Homo sapiens: one gene and its partners. The protein of the gene in region 3 interacts with the protein of the main gene of each other region in a pairwise test. Each region holds a gene or a part of one and is shown on either strand. Other genes may lie near its edges.

Region 1 (5,844 bases), on a different chromosome or scaffold from region 3:
CTAGAAAACAGAACAGTCAGAATATAGTTGTAAATTTTTCAGCAGGGATGCCAGTGGCATATTGGTTGGGCCAGTTTTTCATTTTGTAGGCTTGATTTGATCAGGCATTGCAGGACTTACACCTTTCGTGGTTCAGAGTACCACATGTCATTTTTACCTTCAAATTATTATAAAAAACCAAACCTCACCCTTCCTTCCCATTTCCAAATGCCCTCCCGTAAGAGATACCACCCTGTTTGTTTCTGCTAGTTGGTTCTAGTGATTCTTAGACAGGACTGTATATCAAAAATACCTGTGGAGGTTTTAAAAATAATGTAGATGTCCAGGCCTCATCCCTGGAGATTCTATCTTTTAAGTCCGTGGTGGGTGCCAGGCACCTGTATTTAACCTATACACAAAATTCTCACGTATTTTCCAGTTGAGAGCCAGCATTGCTGACTGGGTAATAGTATCATCTTTACACATAGTTTTTTTCTTGGAAGGTTCATTGAAATGAGACACCATATAAAACAATAGCATGTGGTACTTGGCATTTAAAAAGCCCTTTTTAAATAGTAGTTACTATTATAGGAAAAAGACCGAAATTCCCCAGGTATTCTCTTCCTTTAATTTGGTTCTTGTTCTGGTATGAAATCCTAATTATTATACTTATTTATAAATTTAAAGTAGATAAGTCATCTCTGTGATATACATACAACATACATACTACACACACATAGACACACAATGTGTATGCATGTGTATATAATTCTTGCAATATTTATATATAAAATTCTCAGATTAAAAGAGCATCTCGAAGTATATAGCATTTTTGAGCCTTTCGTCGCCTTTTGCAGAATGTATAATAATAAATTTAATTATTTTATTTGCAGCATGGGAGCTTTGTGTGTTTTATAGCATTTGAACCCAAAAGACAGGCAGCTGTCTATAAGGCTATATTCCATTGCAAGCTTTTAGTGATTTGATAAAAGACAAAAGAAAATTCTAAGAACCAAATAACGGGATTTTAAAATTAATCTATTTCCCACAGGTGTTTCATGCAATCGGCTTGGTCAGCACTCATGTCTCCGTTGTAAGGTATACCAATGCGTTTTTTTCTTTTTAGATTTTGTTTTTAATCTCTATACCCCTCCACCAGTCCTTGGCTTATATGCAGCTATAATTAATTTATAAGGGACCTTAAAATTATGTAGTCTAATTCTTTTATTTTTGAGACTGTGGAATTGAAGTTGAGAAAGCTTACATGACTTTCCAATGGTCATCCAGTCACCTTTTAGTAGAGCTGTGGCTAGTGCACATTTCTCTGGAATCCTGGCTCTGTGTTTTTAGTGGAGAACATTCTGACCAAGATGATGAGAGTCTATTTTAATTAATGTCAAAATATACCTGCTTAGAAGAGTTTGGGTAAAGATTTCCAAATTTTTCTGTGTCCTTAGGCCTAGTCTCTAGCATTCGTTCGTCAAAGATTACTAAACAGATGCAGCCAATGCCCTTCCTCTCAGAAGCGTTTCTCTAGTTCTTATATTCCTAACCCTATGTCTTATTTATCTTCCAACTCTGTTCTAGTTTTACCAAATGGTGTTCAGGCATTATCTGTGTTTTCTTTGTCTGGAATACTTTTCCATCTTGGCTTACCCTATTGCCCTCCCATTCTTCATATGGCTATTAAGACTTCGTGTCTCTAAGATGCCTTTCCCAAATCCCATGTCTGCTTTAGTGCCCTTCCCTCTGCACTTCCCGTTCAGTGCTTAGTGTCTTGTAATTGCCTTTTCACTGTCTCCATCCCTAGTTAGACCATACACTGTGTGAGAGTAAATAGGCTGTTCACCATTATTTCATTTCATCAGGGACCTTATGAGTACTGAAATATTTGTGAACAGCTAAATGTACTTACATGTCATACTCAATATAGTCTGCCTTTTGTTAGATCATTGTTCAGAAGGGTCCTGACAAAAACCATTTCTGTTAAGAAAATGAAATGAGAAGTGTGACTGCTCCCAACAAAATTGTTAATCTCACTGCCTTAATAAAGCTATATCTTTAAAACACTGAATACTGTCTTTTTGTATATTTTTACATTTTTATTTATTTACTTTATTTTGCTTCTCCTATACAGGCTTGTTTCTGTGATGATCATACAAGGAGCAAAGTGTTTAAGCAAGAAAAAGGAAAACAGCCTCCTTGTCCTAAATGTGGGCATGAAACTCAGGAGACTAAGGACCTTAGCATGTCAAGTAAGGCCCTTAAGATACTAAGGAAGTGATTTTTGCTTTCATACTTAGACAAAGTTTATCTTTTTTTTTTTTGGTCTATTTTTCTTATTGCCTCTTCTTATTTGAAAAGATGAATGTGTTCTTTTAAGCAAGTGGAATTTTACAGCTTAGGAAAATATGTGGGTAAAGTTTTTCAGTTTTACTTAAATAGACCAATATTCATTTTGATATTTGGTATTTGCCTTAGTTAATGACAGCAAATACTGAAATTTAAGATAAAGAGTGATTTTTTTTTATTTTTGTTGAGTCTTCCTTGTTAAATAGTTGAGTAGCTATAATTCCTTAATATTAAAGTGGTGGTAATTTTAAGTACCTAGAAGTCAAATTCACTCTGAAGCTATCTTAGGTGTGTGATATTTGAGCACCTATGTTTATTTATGTAATATAGCACTACTATAGGAAATTATTTTATGGTTTTTATGTAACTTTTTTTGTGAAGGAATAAGCATGCTTATAGTAATGCAGCTCGCAATTTTGTTAAAGAGAAGTTTGACTCTTAACCAAACATATCAGAATGGAACCATAATTCTAAGTGACTGACTGCTTTGTTTAATCACAGATGTAGTTGCATGGTGAGGTGAGACTGATGATTTTGCTGATCTTCTGCACTGAACTTTGTGTCACTATTAAGGCAGAAGAAATGACAGGCTTTGTTTTTAAGGGCATCTGCATTGTAAAATAGCTGTCTTAAGAAAAATGTACTGATACGAAATCAGCTGTATTCTGTGATTTATGTGATTTGAAAATAAACTGTCAGTGGCCAAACGGAAGGTATTTTTGTTTTAAACATGCCTTAATACCTTTGGAGTGGTCTGTTGGTCTAATTTGTTTTCTAGATTTAATGAAATTACACTGTAATTTTTATTTTTTATGGTGTTGTATATAGACTCAGGTGAAAAAATTAGGAAAATGTGACCTATTTTTTCATTTGGGATTGAAGCAGCCAATGAAATCCATGAAATTTTATAGAGGAAGATGAGAATGTAGAGAACTGGAACTAACAAAATGCCTTGTACTTGTCTGTCTTCTATAGCACGCTCCCTGAAATTTGGCAGGCAGACTGGAGGTGAAGAGGGAGATGGAGCTTCTGGGTATGATGCTTATTGGAAGAACCTTTCATCTGATAAGTATGGTGATACCAGCTACCACGATGAGGAGGAGGATGAGTATGAAGCAGAGGATGATGAAGAGGAAGAAGATGAAGGCAGAAAGGATTCAGATACTGAGTCATCAGATTTGTTTACTAATTTGAATTTAGGAAGGACCTATGCTAGTGGCTATGCTCACTATGAGGAACAAGAGAACTAGGGGAGCTGCTCTGGTGGCCGTGTGTGAGAGGAGCAGGAGTGAGTGTGTGTGCTTGATGAATTGTGTGTGGTTGTTCAAAAGTACCTTAGCCACTTAGCCTTGTGCAGAAGACTAGTTACACTTAATGGGCCAAGCAATAGGGTGTAGCGTTTTTATAGAACTGATAATCAGGCTTATGGCATAAGAAAAATGAGTTTCAAATTTAAGATGTTTATTGATCGAAGCAATTGAAGTATCATGGATTGGATTGTTACTGATTTCAGTAAAGTATGTTTTGCCAATTAGATACATATATACAAGATAAAGGAATAGGATGGTAATATATTTGTTTGAAATTAAATTACTGTTTTTATTAAAAAATACTGCTTCATTGGGCTGATTTTGTAAAATGTAATGAGTAAAATGAATTACTGTATTTTTCCTTTTATGTCCACAGAATGAGAGTCATATGTTGTTATATTCTAAATTTTCATTAAATATTCATGTCACCTTGAGTTGTCATGATAAGTATGTTTTAGTATTTGACTTATTCTTCTCTTTCTTCACAATGTATGTCCTCAGTGGTACCTATTATTGATGCCTTAAATGTATTGATAAGGTGACTAGTTAGCCATTTTTCAGAGATACAGTATCAGAAATAGTATTATTACAGAAGCTTTACCCAGGACATTTTATTTCTCTTTGAATAAATCTATTATTTCACTTAAATACTTTTGACATTATATTTAATTTTTTGTTCTGTATTTTCAGTTTGTTTTGGAAAGCATTCTAATTTTTTTACAAACTGCTTCAGTTTTCACACATATGGAAATAGGTAATAGAGACTGTGTGGTATACACTTAAAGATAAGCAGCCCAGACCCCATCATTGATAGGTGGAGGACAGTCCTGTCACAAGTCCCAGTTGTTACAACTTAACACTGGCATTTAATAGGGATTGGGTAGTTGTACAAGGAGAGACAATATCTGATTGCCTCACATTTTAGATGTATGGAGAAAATTGTAGCTATGAGGATAACAGGGTTGAATGGCCATTGTTAAGCCATTTTTGTTCTATAGAAGCATACTTAACAGCCAAGGACAATAACAGGCAATGGAAAGCCAGGTGTCAAAGTTAGAGGGCCTCTGGTGGCATGTGAAAAAGCTTTTCACCTTTTGCAGTAGGACGGCTTGAAAAAACTGAGGAGCAAGCCCGAGACTTAATAGTTTCAAAGGATAAAATTTAAAGACAGTTGCCAGCCAAGGCAAGTCTATTATGCCAGCATCGGCAAACTGCTTGGGAAAACCTGTGACCCTGACAAATTAGATGGAGACATCTGAATCGATGGTGCTGGAGATTTTTACTCCCCAGACTCCTGCATTTCTGAGTTTGCAGTCATAGCCCACCCCTCCATGTTAAGGGCAAGCACTCCCCACTTCATTCTCAGGCTGGATGACAATGCAGAGGCTTCTTTCCTCGGGAAACATGCTCTCTTCAAGACTTGCCCTATCTCTAGGCCATTATAGTTAGTATCTCCAGGCCTAAAATTAGGGTTAAGTGACGATAAAGTTAAGCAAAACTCAGTTGAGGTGCTGGAACTGAAGTGGGAGGAAACAAGACTATGCCCCAAAAGAACTGCAAGAATTACGAAGAGTTGGAGGAATATGCTTGAGATTGGAATCAGTGCTTAAGAGGGTCAAAACATAAAATTAGGGAGGAGTTTGATGGCAGCCCTGACACTGGATCTTTGGATTGCTAAGAGTTAAATTAGAGGGTTTTAATAACCTGGCTAGGATCCTGTGAGATGGTGCGAACTCATTACCAGGATGGCTTCTTGAAATATGGAAAAAGTAATGGTCCTTTCTGAGCAAAGTCGAAACACTGGGATTACTGTGACATGGTGGAAGAATGGATTTAAATGGTTAAGGGAATTGGGTATGCTGGAATGGATTGGAAGATGAGATGATTATGTTCCATGGGAAGGCTCAGTGGACACACCATTTAACAGTGCCATAGAAATGTGCACTGATGATGGGGTATAAGCATCTCTAAAAACGTGTGGTAGCTCATGGTAGGCCATACAGACAGTAGGAAAAGAAAACAGAGTTCAGCTTGCTGATGGCAATGTATGACAAGATTCTGAAAAATAGTGGCTAAAGTGGCAGTGCCCAACTGCCAAAAGTCAGGGGGTTACAGTTAATGAGAAAGTGAGAGTGGTAGTCAAGGGGTCCTAACCTGCAAAGAGTTATGGAGAAGGCTAATGTAACACAGCACTTTAGGGACA
Region 2 (8,541 bases), on a different chromosome or scaffold from region 3:
GATTGTTCTTCATGCTTCCTGAACTGAGCCATTGCCCTTAAGTTTCTCAGGGCAAACAATTTTCATACAAGCACATGTTATTTTGTTTGGGGAAAACTGAGAAAACGGAATTCAATAACTGATTCCCTTAATTTATTTTAATAATTTTTTTAAAAAATGGAATAATTTAACAAAACTAATTTATCTCTCCCCCCCAACTTAGTGGGAAATAACCATTTAACAAAATTAAATTCATTTCTACATTTTGAAGCTGATAATGAGGGTACTGGAAAAACAAGCAAATATAAGTGTTTGTGTCAGCTACATAAATTATTAACAGATTAAAACTTCAGTGGAAAGTACAATTAGTCATCACCAAGGATAAAAATACTGGGGATTTAGAATGAGCTTTTCTTTCCTTTGATATGTTGAAGAAATATTGACTAAAAGGAAAATCACAATAGTTTCTGTTTAAATCTATGTACACTTATTGAAAATAAAATTTTATTTGCCAATTTCAGCTGAAGGTATATTTGTCAGATATTGAGATAGATTTAAATTAAAGATATCTTTCTCGTGTAACAATTGCATTAGGTGTTCCATAAATTATCTTCAAAGATATTTTATTTCATAGACATCTTGATCTAGCACAAACTAAAACAATATTGAAAATGATTATGATCCTGGTATGCTATTAATACGTATATCTCTCATTGCTTATAGCACATTTTAGTATTTCAATATTTCTAAAATATAAAATTGAAGTGATTTCGGAACTCCTGAAATTTAAAATTGTATTAGATAAAAATGTCATCCTATATAGTGAGATCATTTGTATTTTGTTAGGTAGTTTATAATTACTTTGCATTTATGGTTGAGAGAAAATTCAGTACATAAATCCAGGGTAAAGTCAGGACCAAAATTCTGTATCCCTGCATCTAATACTTAGACTGTATGTGTATGTGCTAATTCTAATTACCGTGTTAAATTCTAATAGAATTTTAAGCACCAGAAAGTATTGAAAAACAGCTTAAATATTTATAAACCTTACAATTTTATTCATAGTAACGATTTAAAACTATAATACGTAAGCTTCTCTAGCATATATTTTATGCACTTTCCCTCCACAAATGCACATGGACACACACATATGCAAACTCTAGCAGCTTCATGTTTTGGAAGCAAATATTTATGGACTTTAGGCTTCCTTTATGTAAGTTTATTGACAATTGAAAATAACCAAATTTAATAGAAAAACACACCATTATATTTTATATGTGTTAAACATTTTTGTAACTTTGAACCTGCTACGCTTTCCAGCATTATTAGCAAAGCCAACATCTGCCACGTCTTCAAAGGGACTCTTAAAAATCAAAACTTTACAACTGCTGAAAAAAATCACTACAAAGCAGGTGATTCTGAAAAATGTCTATAAATAGTGTGAATTGCTTGGCTTCAATTACATTTGGTTGCTCTTTGAGCAATCTAGTAGTAGGAATAAACTGCCCAGTTTTAGTTAAAATAACTAAAATTAATTCATTGATCGAACTTTAGCTTTTGTGCATGGTTATACAGTGTACATATCTAGATATTTTCTATTCAAATTTATGATACATATTTTATAAAAAATAGAAATTACATCAAAAAAGAAAAGAGCGATTTGGGGAGGTAGACTTTACTAGGTTTTGAATCATATTAGATTCTTGTAAAATTACAAATATTTTATTTATAGCTACTATGTCATAAAACCTTTGCTGTCAAATTATGTCTGTCTATATGCTTGACTATGCAGAATGACTAGCAAATATTACATTTAATAAGTTGGAACTTAAACTCAGAGTAATACCTTATCAACCTCATTCAGTATGATATTGTAATATTTCCAAGATATTTCAATCATTGTGTTTTCTGAAAGGAATAAATTAGTGTTATTATTCATTTCTGTGTTACTGGATTGTGGCTTTTCAGCATTTGCTTTAGAATTTAAAAAATAATATACTGGATCTTGAAGATTAAAGTGAAGTATTGAACAAATCAAATGGAGTACAAAAAAAAACTTCCATTCTTTATCTTGGACTGGTAGACTAATTTTAGGTGTGAACATTTAAAAATGGTAATCTGACATAAAAAATTCTAAGTATCATTGACCTACATGAGGGCTCTAAAATGTGATCTAAAATAATCACACTCAAGTTAAAAGCAACAATTCCTTTAGAATTAAAATGCTTTATTGTTGAACATTAGCAATGAATGGAAGGAAGAATGCAAATAAAAGTAGGAATAGTTTCCAATTCTGTGTAAATTTCTTCATTTATAGTTCATTTTAAAAGAAAAATCATAAATGCAAGGCATGGTATTGCACAAACTTTCACCGGGCTTAGAAATCCAGAACTTAGTATTTAAAGTTTTAATCTTTGTTTATGGTAATTATCAATAGAAACCTTTACAATGACATCTTATAAGCTGATCTTTACTAATAAACTGAAAAAACAGTACTTCAGTCATTACCCCATTCTCCCTCTGTGTTTCAAAACATAGACCGTTCATTATAACTCTGGAATTTAAGTTGTAATATTTATAATAAAATCTAAACATCCTAAGAACTTAATTTTAAGCAAAAATGAAATATCAGAAAATGTCAATCCTTTCTCTTAGATTCTGAGAAATTTGGGAGGTGAATTCCATATGTAATGAAATAATTACATTTTTTTTTGCACTTAAGAAATGTAAATCTATAGATGAATTAATAGCTGAATTATGTAAAACATCACCATATATAAGCCCACTACATGTACTTAGCCTGATAATGCTGCCTTGCTTGCGAAATTTTATTCATTTAGTGTTTTTATAATGGCAGCTTGACACACACAACCTAATATGAAGGTTTTTTAGATTTTAATTTCAAATGAGAAAAACCAATATAATACAGCAATATATTTTAGTTTTGAACTGTATTCACCTCAGGAATTTATTTCTAAATTTTCAGAGCAAATCTCTTTTCCAAGCACTGCTATGAGGGCTGCAAATATCTTTGAGCGATAAATACTAAGGATGCAGAAATATTAGAAAATAAATTACAGGTAGGAATTTCTTAAATAATATCTGTTGAATTAATAGTTGTGGATTATTTATCTCACCCAAATTTTCTTTATTTTTCTCACTTTTTTTTTTGATAAATGAAACATTTTGTGCAGGAAGATATATAAGCATTTCCCCCCTTGATTGTAATAATAAAAAGAGAAGGCTTAATTCTCAACTGGCCAGTTACATTGTATTTCCTGGCTTATAGTATTGGTAAATGATTTCAGTGGTTAAAATCAAAAGCAAAAAAATAAAATAAAACACAAACTAAGGCCAAAGTCCACAGATTAAAAATTGAAGTAGATGTGATTTATTTCCTATTTAGCATATTTAAGAAACAAGACACATTTTGTAGTCACAATTTGTTTCTACATATCATGTGCTTTAGATGTTAATATGGTTTACTGACATACATGTTTTGTAAAGATTGTAAATATAATGAGGCACTAACATTTTGCCTACTTTCCTTAGGATGCTCTCATGACTATTTCTTTTACTAGCGTGTTGAACTGAACCCCCAAGTAGAAAAGGAGTAACGGTGTAAAGTAAAGTTAGTTGCAAAACTCTCTACATTACTCCTAAATCACAGTCATCAGTGAGATTCAAAATCCCATTGGAGAAAACCTCGCAGAATATTTTATGTGTTTTAATGTAGTAAAACTTAGAATGGTCAAGAACATATAGGGCTCAGCCTACAATTTGCGTTAGAGGCAGAATTAATCTAAATCTGATGCCCATTTCTCTAACAGTTCTTCCCGTTTTACTTACATTATAAAAATATTGAATTTTTTAAAGAATGTTGTACTAGATAGTATTTTATGATACAAAATAATCAATAATGTATCTATTGATCCATTTGTGCTCATCTCAGATGTTGTTTTTATGTTTCAGAATAAGTATTTTCATTTAAAATCTCTTGACATTATTTATTACCAAATTAACAGAAAGTTACATGGTAAGTGTATGATCGAATGGGTTATTAATTTTCATGGGTCATGAGTGGGTTTTTAATTTTCCTCTATATTTGAAATTTTTGATATATAATTTCCGGAATAATAAGTAGCTCATTATTCCTGAAGCTTTCATTTATAATGTTACTTTGTGTACAGAAATATAATATTTCTAAATTTATATATGTTACTCACTACTAATTGTGCACTGTATTTTTAAATATTGGTTTTCACAGTGTTATGAAAATAATTTACATTTTTTTGGTTTCTTACATCACCATATGCACAAGAATGATCAGGTAGAATCCGTACTGTATCTATACATTTTTGGAAAGGGTTTGTATGAAAGATAGAAAAACCCTTTCAAAAATAATCCCTTGTTTTATCAATAGAATTAGAAATTAATAAACTGGATCATTAACTTGTATGATAATATTGTTATTTTATTTTTAAAATTTCCATTTATTTAAATGTTTAATAATTCTAAAATGTTTGTGTACCTTGATGACAATTCTTATGTCCTTACAATGTGTACTTTTATTGCAAATATAACATATTTTTACTAGGTAGTAACTCAGTGGTAAAAACTTTAGGGTACTGATTATAGCTCTAAATTCAAAAGCTGTTGCTCTTCAAAATTTTGTAGAATCAATTCAATGTGAATGTTTCAAATGTATTTAAGTATTCTGCTGTTTGTGTTCATAAGCTTTCTTTCTAAGATGTTAGACGTATGTTTCTTAAAGCTTGCATAGGCTACATTGATTAAAATTATGATTATAAGCTGCTTACTTTCATAGTTTTTTGTTTTTATTGTAGTCTAGTAGAGAGGACAATGGCAAGGAAAGGATAAAAGGGAGGGTGCTGAATTAACTAGGACATGGAAGCTATACTTAAAACACACGTTAAAAGAAGGCGTTTACTTTATATATGTATATACATATATAGGTATATGCACACTCACACCCACACATATATATGCATGCATTACTGTAACTCCAAATTTAATTTCCTGATAATAGTAAATCTGAATTAGAGCATCCTTATTAAATGCATAATATGATTATAAATGTTCCAATTACAAAATTAAATATTAAGCTTGAAGCATATATAGTTTTGTGAAGAGTCCAGCAGGCTTAAGCTGGCAATCAATGATAGTTATAAAAGTCCCTGCAGTTTTTGTTTTCTTTTGTTTTTCCTCTTTATTTAGCTCATTATTCTTCACACACTTCAAGAGAATCCCATAATGCTACAAGGAAAAAACAAATTCGCAGTTATCTTACGTGACTGTGGGCAAGAAAATGACTAAGGTGAAATCATCTGTCAGGCTCCGCAAAACCTAGAGGAGGGTCCAGCTTAGGTTGGCAGATGCCAGTAGAATTTTAAAGGCCTAGAATTTTACTCTTTGAAAATATAGCCTTAAATTTTTGCCAGAAATGACACCCAAATGAAAACTTATTTTTGCAAAGTGATAGTTATTTGCAAATGCAGTAGTGAAATATATTCAGAGTCTGTTGAGGTAGCTTGTCCACTGTCTGGACTGCACAGTAAACATTTGGATGGTTATTCTTAGCCACCCAAAAAACTAGCAAACTAAACTGAGGTGTATTCTTATTAGTTGAAAAGATTAAATGGGCATGCCTCTTATCAAATTAACAATGAATGCAAAGCAAATTTTGCAAATCATTGATTTATGTTGGTAGGTAACACAAACAGGAAACTATTCAGAAAAATAAATATGTGTTATCCGAAACGTAATGGGGACTAGCTTGGTTTTGTAGAACAACAGCAATTTAGCAAATAACTTTCACATTTAAAGAACCATATAAATAATGCTTTAGCACTCACTGCATAGGTTGGAATCAAGTGATGTCTTATTTAATATTATTCAAAGATAAAATGAGGTCTTAGTATGTGTAGTGCCTTTAACAATTAAAATTTTCTCACCTATAGGCTATGCTTACGTGGGAATTTCTTTTTCTTATTTGAAGTATAAACAGATCTGGATGCATTAAACTAGACAGAATGTAGATGTAAAAATGATTGAGACATATTAAAATGACAGGAAAGTCAGAGTTTAGGCATCCCTATTTGGAGGCTTGCTGCCACCCATGTTTCTAAGATTACAGTCTTGTGAATGTCCACACTCAAAATTCAGGGAATTATAAATAATTTTTCCTCCAGAACTATTCTTTGCTCCTGGAAGTAGAGCTGTATAATTTATTTTCTAGAATACCCAGATGTTTAGGAAAGTATAAGTAAGTGGCAACACTTTTGCATATTTAGCCATTAGTTGATAAATCATAAAAGATTTATCCTATTTCTTAATTATCATATTAGACAAGGAAATAGATGTCACACTCAAAGGGATAATTGAAGAGAGTTTGATGATGGCAATTTGATGGTGAGTAGAATGTAGGGAAACCACAGGAAATGATGAATCCCCCAGGGTCTGTCCACAGTTGGAATATATTAGCACCCCTAACCTGAGAGGGTAAATGCAGGGACCTCTTACCAGAATCCAATGAGCGCAACAGGACAGAAGCCTTCTGGAAAAGTTGGGACCTCAGATGGAGGATTGCAGCTCATGTCGAATATCATCCAGTAACCTGTCTTCATGTCCTCCAATCTTCTTTTGTTGCTTCCATTGATCAAACACTATCCGAAGCCAGAACCCCGGAGGGTTAGGTGGATGCAACCCTAAGAGTCAACCGAAGAAGAAATGAGGCAAGCATATCTGGGAGAACACAATAGTTAGGGCTAAACCCCCGCTGTGTCTCTTACTATTGTCACCTCTTGGCCACAAATTTAACTTTTCTCTACCATCGTTTCTGAAAAGGAAATTGAGTTAATATACACAAAGCAATTAGAACAATGTCTGGCTTAGTAAAGTGTCAGTTATTATTTTTATCATCTATCAATGAATGTACAATTATGTAATGCATATGCACCATCTGAAAATAATCTATTTTATGCTACCTGTTTGCATTTTATTACAAATACTGCTATAGGAAATGTAACTTGCCTAAGTAATTACTAAAGATTTAAAATAATCATTGTCCTTAGAATTGTAAACGGCATGAAATTTCCCTGAAATGTAAGGTGAATTCTAGCCAAGTTATGTAAGAGGCTCAAGTTGCCTTTCCCACCCTTAAGATTTCCATTCCACAGCCTCTTTTACTTGGACCTCTCCTAACTTCCTCTTCTCTTGGGTCTCCTGCTACTTCTCCATTGAAAAGCTGTTTTCAGGAAGAGTGCATATTGAGCAAAATAAAGAATAAAATGAGGACTCTTTTTTTTTTTTTGAGACCGAGTTTTGTTCTGTTGCCCAGGCTGGAGTGCAGTGGCGCAATCTTGACTCACTGCAACCTCTGCTGTCCGGGTTCAAGTGATTCTCCTGCCTCAGCCTCCTGAGTAGCTGGGACTACAGGCGCCCGCTAATTTTTATATTTTTAGTAGAGACGCGGTTTCACCATGTTGGCCAGGCTGGTCTCGAACTACCTACCTCAAGTGATCTGCCCACCTCGGCCTCTCAAAGTGCTGGGATTACAGGTGTGAGCCACCGCGCCCGGCCAGAACTTAACTTTTTAAAAGGAGTGTACAGAGGGGCAGGGCATTTAGTCAAGAGGAAACAGAATTTAAATAAAAGGAATTCAAATATGACAATGAAATTTTGGGTCTCTGTTTTAGCTGTTAACTAGGAGGGTGGGAATGACATTTTCCTGCTATGTTAGAAACTTTATTGCAGAGAGAATTTTCTTATTGTTGCTCTGTTATTTTTAGCAGTTCCAGTTGCAGACCCTTAGGAATGGCAAATGTGCAAATATTACTAAAAGCTGAAAACATGTATGTCCCACACAAAATGCATGAACAGAATTTTATTTTGGTGATATAATTTCTTTTTACAAAGAACATATTTTAATTATTTGTTTGTTCACATTTGCATATTTAATACGTTATTGAGAAATATCACTTAGATAGAGATAAAAGAGAACAACAAACCCCTGGAATTGCAAGTCCTGGGTGGTTGACTGCGTTGACTCAGTTTAGTCACCTCTCCCACATCCATAAGGCAGTGTGCAGAATTCAGACATGACTTCAGCGAAATTTTAAATGATCATATATGCGAGACTTCTACAGTGCCTTTTGAATAAATAATAGAATCAAGCATTATATTAAAATCACAAATGCAGAGTTAACTTTTTAAGCATTTTCAGATCCATAGCAATTTGATCCCTAAAACAAGAGAAGTTTAAAGGAACAGAGAGTGTTTCTCTGTTAGATAATAGAAGAACTGGGAGGATGTAGGTAGAAGAGTACAGGAAGAAGAGCAAAATATTAAATGTCCGATAATACACAGCAGGGACAAGAAGGGTCCAACGGCATCAACCAGTGCGTTGACTCTTTGATTTTAGAGGAGGCTTGATTTGTCAAAGTTTTCTTAATGAATTGTAACCTGTAATATTTAAACAGATGATTAGAATCAAAATAATCAAGACACTAGAAGAGCCTCAAGGCACTACCCAGTTCAATG
Region 3 (9,099 bases):
TTGAGTCCTTCAGGCCCATCTGTGGTGAAGAGCAAGATCTTTTCTCCTAGCAGTGCACGGAAGAGCCCAGCCAAGTGCCTCATGTAGCTGAAGTCACAGGCTCTGTAGCTACCATATTCATTCTCCACCTGCCAGAGGGGAGGGAAAGTGGAACCCAGCTATGGGATGGAGGTCAAGGACCCCTTGTACCTTCTTCCCCTGCTCCAGTCACTTCCCCCTTGTACCTGAATGCTAATGATGTTGCCCCCATTGTGATAAAGCCATGGATATATCTTGGGCAGCAAGACCTTGAACCAGGAGTCCACTGCGGCAAGGAAGTCTAAAGGAAGGAGCAGAGCTTCTGTGTTAGGTGCTACCATCACACTTGCTCACCACTAAATATGGGAAGCAATGACTCTTGTCAAGAAATTCCCAACCCTAAGCACCTTGTATATTTGCACGCCAATGAAATTTGAACATAGGAAACCTTAAAATAGTGTTTCTTAAAAACAAATGGGCCGGGCGTGGCGGCTCACGCCTGTAATCCCAGCACTTTGGGAGGCGGAGGCAGGCAGATCACGAGGTCAAGAGATTGAGACCATCCTGGCCAACATGGTGAAACACTGTCTCTACTAAAAATACAAAAAAATTAGCTGGGCATGGTGGCGGGTGCCTGTAATCCCAGCTACTCAGGAGGCTGAGACAGGAGAATCGCTTGAACCCGGGAGGCAGAGGTTGCAGTGAGCCGAGACTGCACCACTGCACTCCAGCCTGGGCAACAAGAGCAAAACTCCATCTCAAAACAAACAAACAAAAATGGTGGTATATGGGGAGACTAAAATATAGAGGGGATGGCCGGGTGTGGTGGCTCACGCCTGTAATCCCAGCACTTTCTGAGGCCAAGGCAGGGGTGGATGACCTGAGGTCAGGAGTTTGAGACCCTCATGGCCAACATGGCAAAAACCTGTCTCTACTAAAAATACAAAAAATTAGCCGGGCAAGGTGGTAGGTGCCTGCAATCCCAATTACTCGGGAGGCTGAGGCAGGAGAATCACTTGAACCCAATCGGAGGTTGCAGTGAGCCAAGGTCACGTGACTGCACTCCAGCCTGGGCAACAGAGCAAGACTCCGTCTCAAAAAAAAATAACAATTATGCCGGGTGCGGCGGCTCACACCTGTAATCCCAGCACTTTGGGAGGCCAAGGCTGGCAGATCACGAGGTCAGGAGATCGAGACCATCCTGGCTAACACAGTGAAACCCCATCTCTACTAAAAATACAAAAAATAGCCGGGTGTGTTGGTGGGCACCTGTAGTCCCAGCTACTCAGGAGGCTGAGGCAGGAGAATGGCGTGAACCTGGGAGGTGGAGCTTGCAGTGAGCCGAGATTGCGCCACTGCACTCCAGCCTGGGTGATAGAGCGAGACTCCATCTCAAAAATAAAACAAAATAAAAATAATATATATATATGTGTGTGTGTGTGTGTGTGTGTGTGTGTGTATATATATATATATATATATATACATACATATATATGTATGTATAGAGAGAGCGAGAGAGAGACCAGGAAGGCCTCACCAAGGTGACTTCTGCAGGAGGCTTGTGATGAAGGAGCACCACATGCAAAGGCCTCAAAGCCCAAGGCCTGGTGGGTCTGAAGAACAGCAATGAGGCCACTGTGGCTGGAGCAGAGTGAACATGGGGGAGAAGAGCAATAATGTCGAGGAGGTGACTGGGGCCAATTGTGTAGGACCTACCACTTTAAGGAATTTATGGTTCATATTCTGAATGAGATGAGAACCTACTAGAGAGGTTTAAGCAGAGAAATGACAAGATCTGAGATGTATCTTTAAACTTATACTTGAACAGGATCACACTGGCTACTCTACTGAGAACAGATTGTATGGGGGAGAGGGCAAACAAGGGAAACCAGTTAGGAAGCTATAAAATAAGCCAGCTGAGAGAGATGGTTTGGACCAGGGTGGGGGCAATGGGGGTGATAAAAAGCACTTAAATTTAATGTTTGTCAAGATACAGCTGATAGGATTTTCTCTTTTTTGAGACAAAGTCTCTTCAATCTGTCACCCAGGCTGGAGTGTAGTTGTTCAATCTCGGCTCACTGCAACCTCTGACCCCCGGGCCCAAGTGATTCTCCTGCATCAGCCTCCCAAGTAGCTGGGATTACAGGTGCCCACCACCTCGCCCAGCCAATTTTTTGTATTTTTAGTAGAGATGGGATTTTGCCATGTTGGCCAGGTGGGTCTCAAACTCCTGACCTCAGGTCATGCACCCGCCTGGGCCTCTGAAAGTGCTGGGATCACAGGCATGAGCCACCGCGCCCAGCTGTTTTTTTTTTTTTTAATCAGTTTCTTCCACTATATTATAAGCTTTACGGCACAAGGATGGGGGTCTGTCTGGTCCCCCAGTTTCTAGCATCCTGCTGGGCATGAAGGAAACACTTGGTAAATGAATGATGACCTCCAATTTGGGAATGGTCTCTTCTGCTTTTGGCACCCAAATAGCCCATTTTACTTACTTGCTTCTGTGTTAAATCCTTTGTCTCAACTCACCTGGATCTGAGGTTCTTAGATGAATTTCAGGTTTTCGAAGCAACCAGGATGGGAGACCCCCCTGAGACAAACATAAAGAGAACAAAGAAGCATGTAGGTTTTGTTTTGGGGTGTGGTGGGGAAGCTAGGAAGGGAAGGAAGGAAGGGAAGGAATTGAATATAGTGCTGGAGATGGCCCTAGAGTGTGGGCAGATGGGAGTAGTCTAGGAACTGCACAAGGATAACTGGTTCTATCCCTTCTCCAGCTAACTCACCATCTCCCACTCTGCACAGATGTAAGGTCCTGGTCTCAGTATGACCAACAGGTTCGCTAGAGCTGCCTCATTCAGAAAGGCAATGAGGTCCCGGCTGCCATTAAAGTTATAGACCCCAGGCTGTGGCTCGTGGTAGTTCCAGGGCACATAACTGAGAAAGGAAGAGGTTAATAGGAACCAAGGTGAAGAGACGCCAGGGAGGCCTAACGGCTCAGGCCTTGCAGGGAATCTCCAGGAAGCGGTTGGAAGGAGGTCCTGGCCTGCCCTTTCCCACCCTTGGCCTAGGAGTCCTGGCAGTCTTCCTGTCCCGACCTTCTTTATAAGGGGGCGGTAGAAAAAGTAGATCCCATCCCTCCGCGGCTCTTGCGAGCACTTCTTACAACTGTATGGCGTTGAGGCCGCTCCATCGCATCTTCAAAAGCCGGTCGGCCCAAAGCACCCGCGGTACCCGAAAGTAGTGCAGGCTGCCAGACACATAGCGGAACGGGGCCCCGTCTAGGAGAAACCGGTCATGACCCCTATCCACTACGAACGACCGAGTGTCTGCCTATAAAGAGAAAGAGACGCTGCTCAGCAGACGCCTGGAGGGAGCGTCGAGGGTCAGCGCCTGCCAAGAGCGGAAGAGATGGAACTAGCCCTGCGGGTTGTTTGGTTGTTACTTTGGACTTTCTCTCATCCGCTGGATCTGATCCCGCTCACCGCACCCGGCAGGCTGGTTCACCGTCTCATCTTACCTGGGGCAGCAGTAGCGTCAGGCTGAGCGGCAGCAGCAGGGAACGAAGGCAGGACAGCTTCTTGGGAGCCATGGCGTTTACAGCGCTCCTCTAGTCTGAGACGGCGGACAGACCGTCACGTGTCGGATTCCTGGGAGGGAACCTCAGCGAGCAAGGGGGCGGAAACCACCTCAAGTTGCCAGGCGTTTAGCCTGGACTTCCTCTCCAGCCTGCAGCCACCCCCTTACTCTACTAGTTTGTAAAATTTCTACATCATGTTAAAGTGCAGTTCACGAACCAGCTTCATCGACATCACCTGGGAACTTGTTAGAAATGGAGAATCTGGCTGGGCACGATGGCTCACGCCTGTAATCCCAACACTTTGGGAGGCCGAGGCGGGTGGATCACTTGAGGTCAGGAGTTCAAGACCAGCTTGGCCAACAGGGCAAAACCCTGTCTCTACTAAAAATACAAAAATTAGCCGGGCCTGGTGGCACGCGCCTGTATTCCAAGCTACTCCGAGGGTGGGGGTGGGGGTGGGGGTGGGGGTGGGGGTAGGGGCTGAGGCAGGAGAATTGCTTGAACCCGGAAGGCGGAGGTTGCAGTGAACCGAGATCCTGCCACTGCACTCCAGCCTGGGCAACAGAGCGAGACTCTGTCTCAAAAAACACAAACAAACAAACAAAAGAAATGTAAAATCTCAGATCCTACCTCAGACCTATAGAATCAGAATTTGTATTTTAACAAGATTCCCAGGTGATCCTAGGCACCTTCAAAATTGAGAAGCATGGCTTTACTTGACTGGGCTCCCTGAGGACAGGGAGTGCCCTGTTCATCTCAAATCCTCAGCCTCTAGCACAGGGCCGGGTATATAGTAGGTTAAATCTGGATGAATCAATGTCATAACCAAAAGGCTAAAACAGGTTCAGAACCAGGGGAAACCATTGGAAAATCTTCAGGGTGATCCGGGGTGTGGAAGGGAGGAACCAGGTCACAAGAAGGACCTCTTTCCTGGAGAGTCCTGTTTCAGCAAAACAGCCATTCCCTCCTGGCCATTCCACCTTCTTTGGAAGTGCACCCCTCTCCAGCTTACCCCTGCCTGCCTCCGCAACAGATATTAAGGACAACTGCTTTGTGCCAAAGCTCGAAAATCTGTGAATTTCCGTTCCTTTTGCCTTTACAGTCTCAAGAATGGGATGTGAAGATCAGGGTAATAATAATTACGGTTTATTGACACGTACTGAAGGCTATGTGTCAGATATTGTATTAAACACTGTACATCTCATTTAATCTTCAACTCCATGAGGTAGATAATTATTTCCATTTTACAGAGGAGGAGAGGAAAGGACAGAAACATTAAGTAGCCTGTCCAAGGTCACACAACTACGTTAACGGAGCTGTCATTTGAACTAGTCAGTCTGGCCTCACAGTTAAGCTACTTAACCTTATGTACTATTATACCTATTTTACAGCTACCAAAAGTAAGGATCCGAGAGGTTAAGTAACTTGCCCGAGGTTACACAGCTAGCATGCTATTAACACTCAATTTAGAAACTGGAAGTCTGGTTCACAAGCCTGAGCTCTTAACCACTGAGACTAGGGGTAGTGGGATACAGGCCAGAGCCCAGAAGGTTGTACGGGATCAGGAGACCAGGCCACCAGACCCGCCCCTCACTGGATCCCCCTCCAGGCTGCAGTGTAGTTGGCCGCTTTCTGCCCCAGAGCGCCAGAGGTATGAAGCCTCCTACCTCCAACATTGGGAGATGGAGGTCCTGGGGGCCTCGGGCCGAGCCCGGCTTTGCTCCCCTTTGGCGTAGGTGCCTGCGTCTTGACCCCCACCGAAGGCCAAGTAGAGAACCCTCACCAGGGTCCTGGGACCCGTCCACCCCTACACCTAGCTAGCCCGGAGCCTCTCAGCTCCGCGTCCCCACATCCTCCGGATGCCCAGCGGTTGCTGAGATACCGCGGGCCGTTACGCCGGCGCGGACTGATGATGTCAGCACTGCTTCCGGTCGGTGGCGCTTCTCTCTGGCCCGAGCCAGGTCAGTCCGGCAGTGCAGATGGCCCATCCCGGGCTCTGGGCTCCTAGACCGGGGTGGGCCCTGCCAGGAGTGGGCCTGAGCCTCGCACGTCCTCTGAAACTACGCTATGCTCTGCTTTTGCGGCGCGATGGGCGTGGGAGCGGGGGCTGCCCAAAGATGGGCTGGGGTTGGAGGAAGTGGCCCGGTAGCCGCTGTGTGTCCTGAGGCCGTAAGGCGCCTGACCCCACCCCTGAAGCTGGCGACGGAGCAGGGCCTGTTTTCTCTACACTATAGTGTAGGTTCCAGAGACCTGGGCCTGAGCTCTCCGCATTGGTACTTCATGGGTCGTCTGGATTGTGCCGGACCTGTGACCCTGCCGTTGTTTTCTTTCCAGCATGATCCGCTGGGCCCCCAGCGCATCTCCTGGAAGAGCCCACTCACCCTGGACGAGCTCTTCGGTAGCCTCAGACCGTCCTTGAAGAGGATGACTGAGACATTATGGGCCACGCGCTGTGTGTCTGCTCTCGGGGAACTGTCATCATTGACAATAAGCGCTACCTCTTCATCCAGAAACTGGGGGAGGGGTGAGTGTTTGGAAGTCAGTTAACTAGTCCTCAAGTTTATGATCATTGAAGGACAGCGGTGTGCATATGCTTGGGGCACAAGGGTTTTATCCCTATCCCTGTCCTCTCTCACCTGACAGAACCTAGCTACACAGTATCAAGAAGGTGGATTCTGGAGCCAGGCCTGCTAAATCCACCTCGTGTGACCTTGATAAACCATGTTTTTTTCATCAGCTTAATGGAGATGATTATTATCCCTCACTGATGGAGTTGTGAGGATTAAATGAGATAATGTGTATAAAATGTCTCACCCAATGCGGGGTTGACAAGTACTTGATAAGTGTTGGCTATTATTTATTTAGCATCTGTCAAGTGCAGAGGTCTCTATTACGACCATAGGACCTCAAAGATTTCTATATCTCTGCTCCTGAGGAGCTCACGGTGTAATATTCTTCAGATTTCTCTTAGAGCCACATCTTGGGAAGGTTTCTGCTAAATGGGAAGGACACCCCACTCCCCACCAGGAAATTTCTCTAGGTCCAAGCCATGTGGGAGATGACCATGGCCCTTTATTGACCCCTTTGGCCCACAGTGGGTTCAGCTATGTGGACCTAGTGGAAGGGTTACATGATGGACACTTCTACGCCCTGAAGCGAATCCTGTGTCACGAGCAGCAGGACCGGGAGGAGGCCCAGCGAGAAGCCGACATGCATCGCCTCTTCAATCACCCCAACATCCTTCGCCTCGTGGCTTACTGTCTGAGGGAACGGGGTGCTAAGCATGAGGCCTGGCTGCTGCTACCATTCTTCAAGGTCAGAAAGACTCCTGGTTATGGAGGGGGTTGCAGCAGAGCCACCTACTCAAGGGCTGTGTGAGCAGTCCAGCATGTTAGGAAGCAGGGACCATGTCCTGGGTTTGGCCACTTTAGATTTTGAGTTTGAGGTGTGTATCATGAAAGGGCTGATAGGCTTTGACATAGGGAAGGGATCAGGCCTAAGGAGCAGAGGCTCCAAAAACATCTCCAACTGTAGGGAAACTTGTGTTGCAGAGAGGTACGCTGTGGAATGAGATAGAAAGGCTGAAGGACAAAGGCAACTTCCTGACCGAGGATCAAATCCTTTGGCTGCTGCTGGGGATCTGCAGAGGCCTTGAGGCCATTCATGCCAAGGGTTATGCCCACAGGTCAGTGGGAGGACCCTGTGTGCTTGCTGGGGCCCAGAGGAAGAGCCTCACCAGGAGACATGGGAGGTCTCTGTTCTCCCAAGAAACAGCCTGTATGATTCTTTTGCTTGCTGGGATTCCAGCCTTCCTGTCCAGAGATGCTCATAGGTCACTTCTACTTCTCTACAGAGACTTGAAGCCCACCAATATATTGCTTGGAGATGAGGGGCAGCCAGTTTTAATGGACTTGGGTTCCATGAATCAAGCATGCATCCATGTGGAGGGCTCCCGCCAGGCTCTGACCCTGCAGGTAAAAGAGTCTCCAGGTTCCTTTTCTCACCTGTTCCCCATTCCCACCCCTTCTGGTGCATGTCCCAGTTTGGTCACATGACCATGACCTGTGCCCCACTTTTGAGCTCTGGGATCACTGTTCCAGGACTGGGCAGCCCAGCGGTGCACCATCTCCTACCGAGCCCCAGAGCTCTTCTCTGTGCAGAGTCACTGTGTCATCGATGAGCGGACTGATGTCTGGGTGAGGAGCATGTGGGTGGGTATCTGGGTAGGGAGGGCTGTGGCTCTGTACCCACCGTGGAGTAGAGTAGGTTGTTGGTTTCTGTTGCATGGGGCGCCAGGAACCACAATATGTCCCCATCCACTTCAACTTCCTTCCTGGGAAATGTCACTGATACTGTACCCAGTTGTACCGGATGTGGTATAATCTGTGCCCCTGAACAAGGTGAGTACAGCTCAGTGTCAGTAGTGAAGGCACTGGCTAAGCAGGGGCTAAGCTAAACAGGGGCTGCGGAGGCCTCCAGCTGACTGGCAGTTTCTCTGGACCCTGGTGGTGCCATGTGGCTGAGGTCAGCGTATTCTTTTTAGCTTATGGAGTCTCCTTTTACCACAGAAGTAAAGGGAGAGATGTCACCTCCACTGGTCCCCTTCTAGGGACTAATCAAGTTATGCTCAGTCCCTAGGCTGCGTGCTATATGCCATGATGTTTGGGGAAGGCCCTTATGACATGGTGTTCCAAAAGGGTGACAGTGTGGCCCTTGCTGTGCAGAACCAACTCAGCATCCCACAAAGCCCCAGGTGAGTGAGCAACGAATAGGGCATCAAGTGTTTCAGACTCCCCCCTGGTATTAGCTGAGTTGACAGATAGGTGTCATCCGGTCACCCTGGGCTCCTCCCTCCACAGGCATTCTTCAGCATTGCGGCAGCTCCTGAACTCGATGATGACCGTGGACCCGCATCAGCGTCCTCACATTCCTCTCCTCCTCAGTCAGCTGGAGGCGCTTCAGCCCCCAGCTCCTGGCCAACATACTACCCAAATCTGAAAAAGCAGCATGTTGAGAAGATGGCCCCTTGTGCCTTGGAAAGAGGTTCCCATCCCTCATTGGAATCACCACCCATTCCATCCAGGACTTCTCTTACACTTGGGGGTAGCGGGGTCAGGACAATCATCTCAGTCCTGCATCTTTTCTTCTGCTTTCTTCCCTCCAAGAGCAAAACCTGGGCAAGGGGACTTACTGAGTGGGGGTGGGTGGGGGTTGGGAAAAGGGAAACTGGTGGGATATGGAACATGGCTCTGAGCAGGACTGTTGAGCTCACATAGTGTTCTGACTCCAAATCTGGGAGCAGGAGAATGTGTAAACAAGAATAAAGTGGAAGCAGGTTGGTGTAGATCTTAGTCTCAGTGTTCCTGGAGTGAGAGAAGAGGTGCAAGGGGCCCAAAGTCAGGTTGCCATTTCAGGCGAACTGCCTGGGAAGGAGGAATGGTGCAGAGTCGGCAATGGTGTGACTTCATTCTACAGGAGGTTGGTTAGCAGTGGACAGTTCTAGC

The links.
Region 1: the proteins of STK16 (region 3) and ZNF330 interact in binary tests that used the Homo sapiens proteins (3 or more experiments, as listed by UniProt).
Region 2: the proteins of STK16 (region 3) and MEOX2 interact in binary tests that used the Homo sapiens proteins (3 or more experiments, as listed by UniProt).

What each region holds. Positions count from the first base shown.
Region 1 is NC_000004.12:141,230,409-141,236,252, forward strand, and holds the end of ZNF330 (zinc finger protein 330), read left to right. Parts: intron 1-1,030; coding exon 1,031-1,077; intron 1,078-2,116; coding exon 2,117-2,234; intron 2,235-3,306; coding exon 3,307-3,581; 3' UTR 3,582-4,289; downstream 4,290-5,844.
Region 2 is NC_000007.14:15,675,629-15,684,169, reverse strand, and holds part of MEOX2 (homeobox protein MOX-2), read left to right. Parts: intron 1-2,189; exon of another isoform or gene 2,190-5,256; intron 5,257-6,522; exon of another isoform or gene 6,523-6,707; intron 6,708-8,009; exon of another isoform or gene 8,010-8,150; intron 8,151-8,541. UniProt on the Homo sapiens protein: Mesodermal transcription factor that plays a key role in somitogenesis and somitogenesis and limb muscle differentiation. Required during limb development for normal appendicular muscle formation and for the normal regulation of myogenic genes.
Region 3 is NC_000002.12:219,239,967-219,249,065, forward strand, and holds the start of STK16 (serine/threonine-protein kinase 16), read left to right. Parts: upstream 1-5,512; 5' UTR 5,513-5,830; intron 5,831-5,929; 5' UTR 5,930-6,033; coding exon 6,034-6,119; intron 6,120-6,690; coding exon 6,691-6,910; intron 6,911-7,146; coding exon 7,147-7,280; intron 7,281-7,448; coding exon 7,449-7,569; intron 7,570-7,695; coding exon 7,696-7,791; intron 7,792-8,226; coding exon 8,227-8,348; intron 8,349-8,454; coding exon 8,455-8,593; 3' UTR 8,594-9,099. Other genes in the region: GLB1L (beta-galactosidase-1-like protein isoform 1 precursor), read right to left, coding at 1-128, 225-319, 2,548-2,608, 2,802-2,952, 3,182-3,348, 3,536-3,607. UniProt on the Homo sapiens protein: Membrane-associated protein kinase that phosphorylates on serine and threonine residues. In vitro substrates include DRG1, ENO1 and EIF4EBP1. Also autophosphorylates. May be involved in secretory vesicle trafficking or intracellular signaling.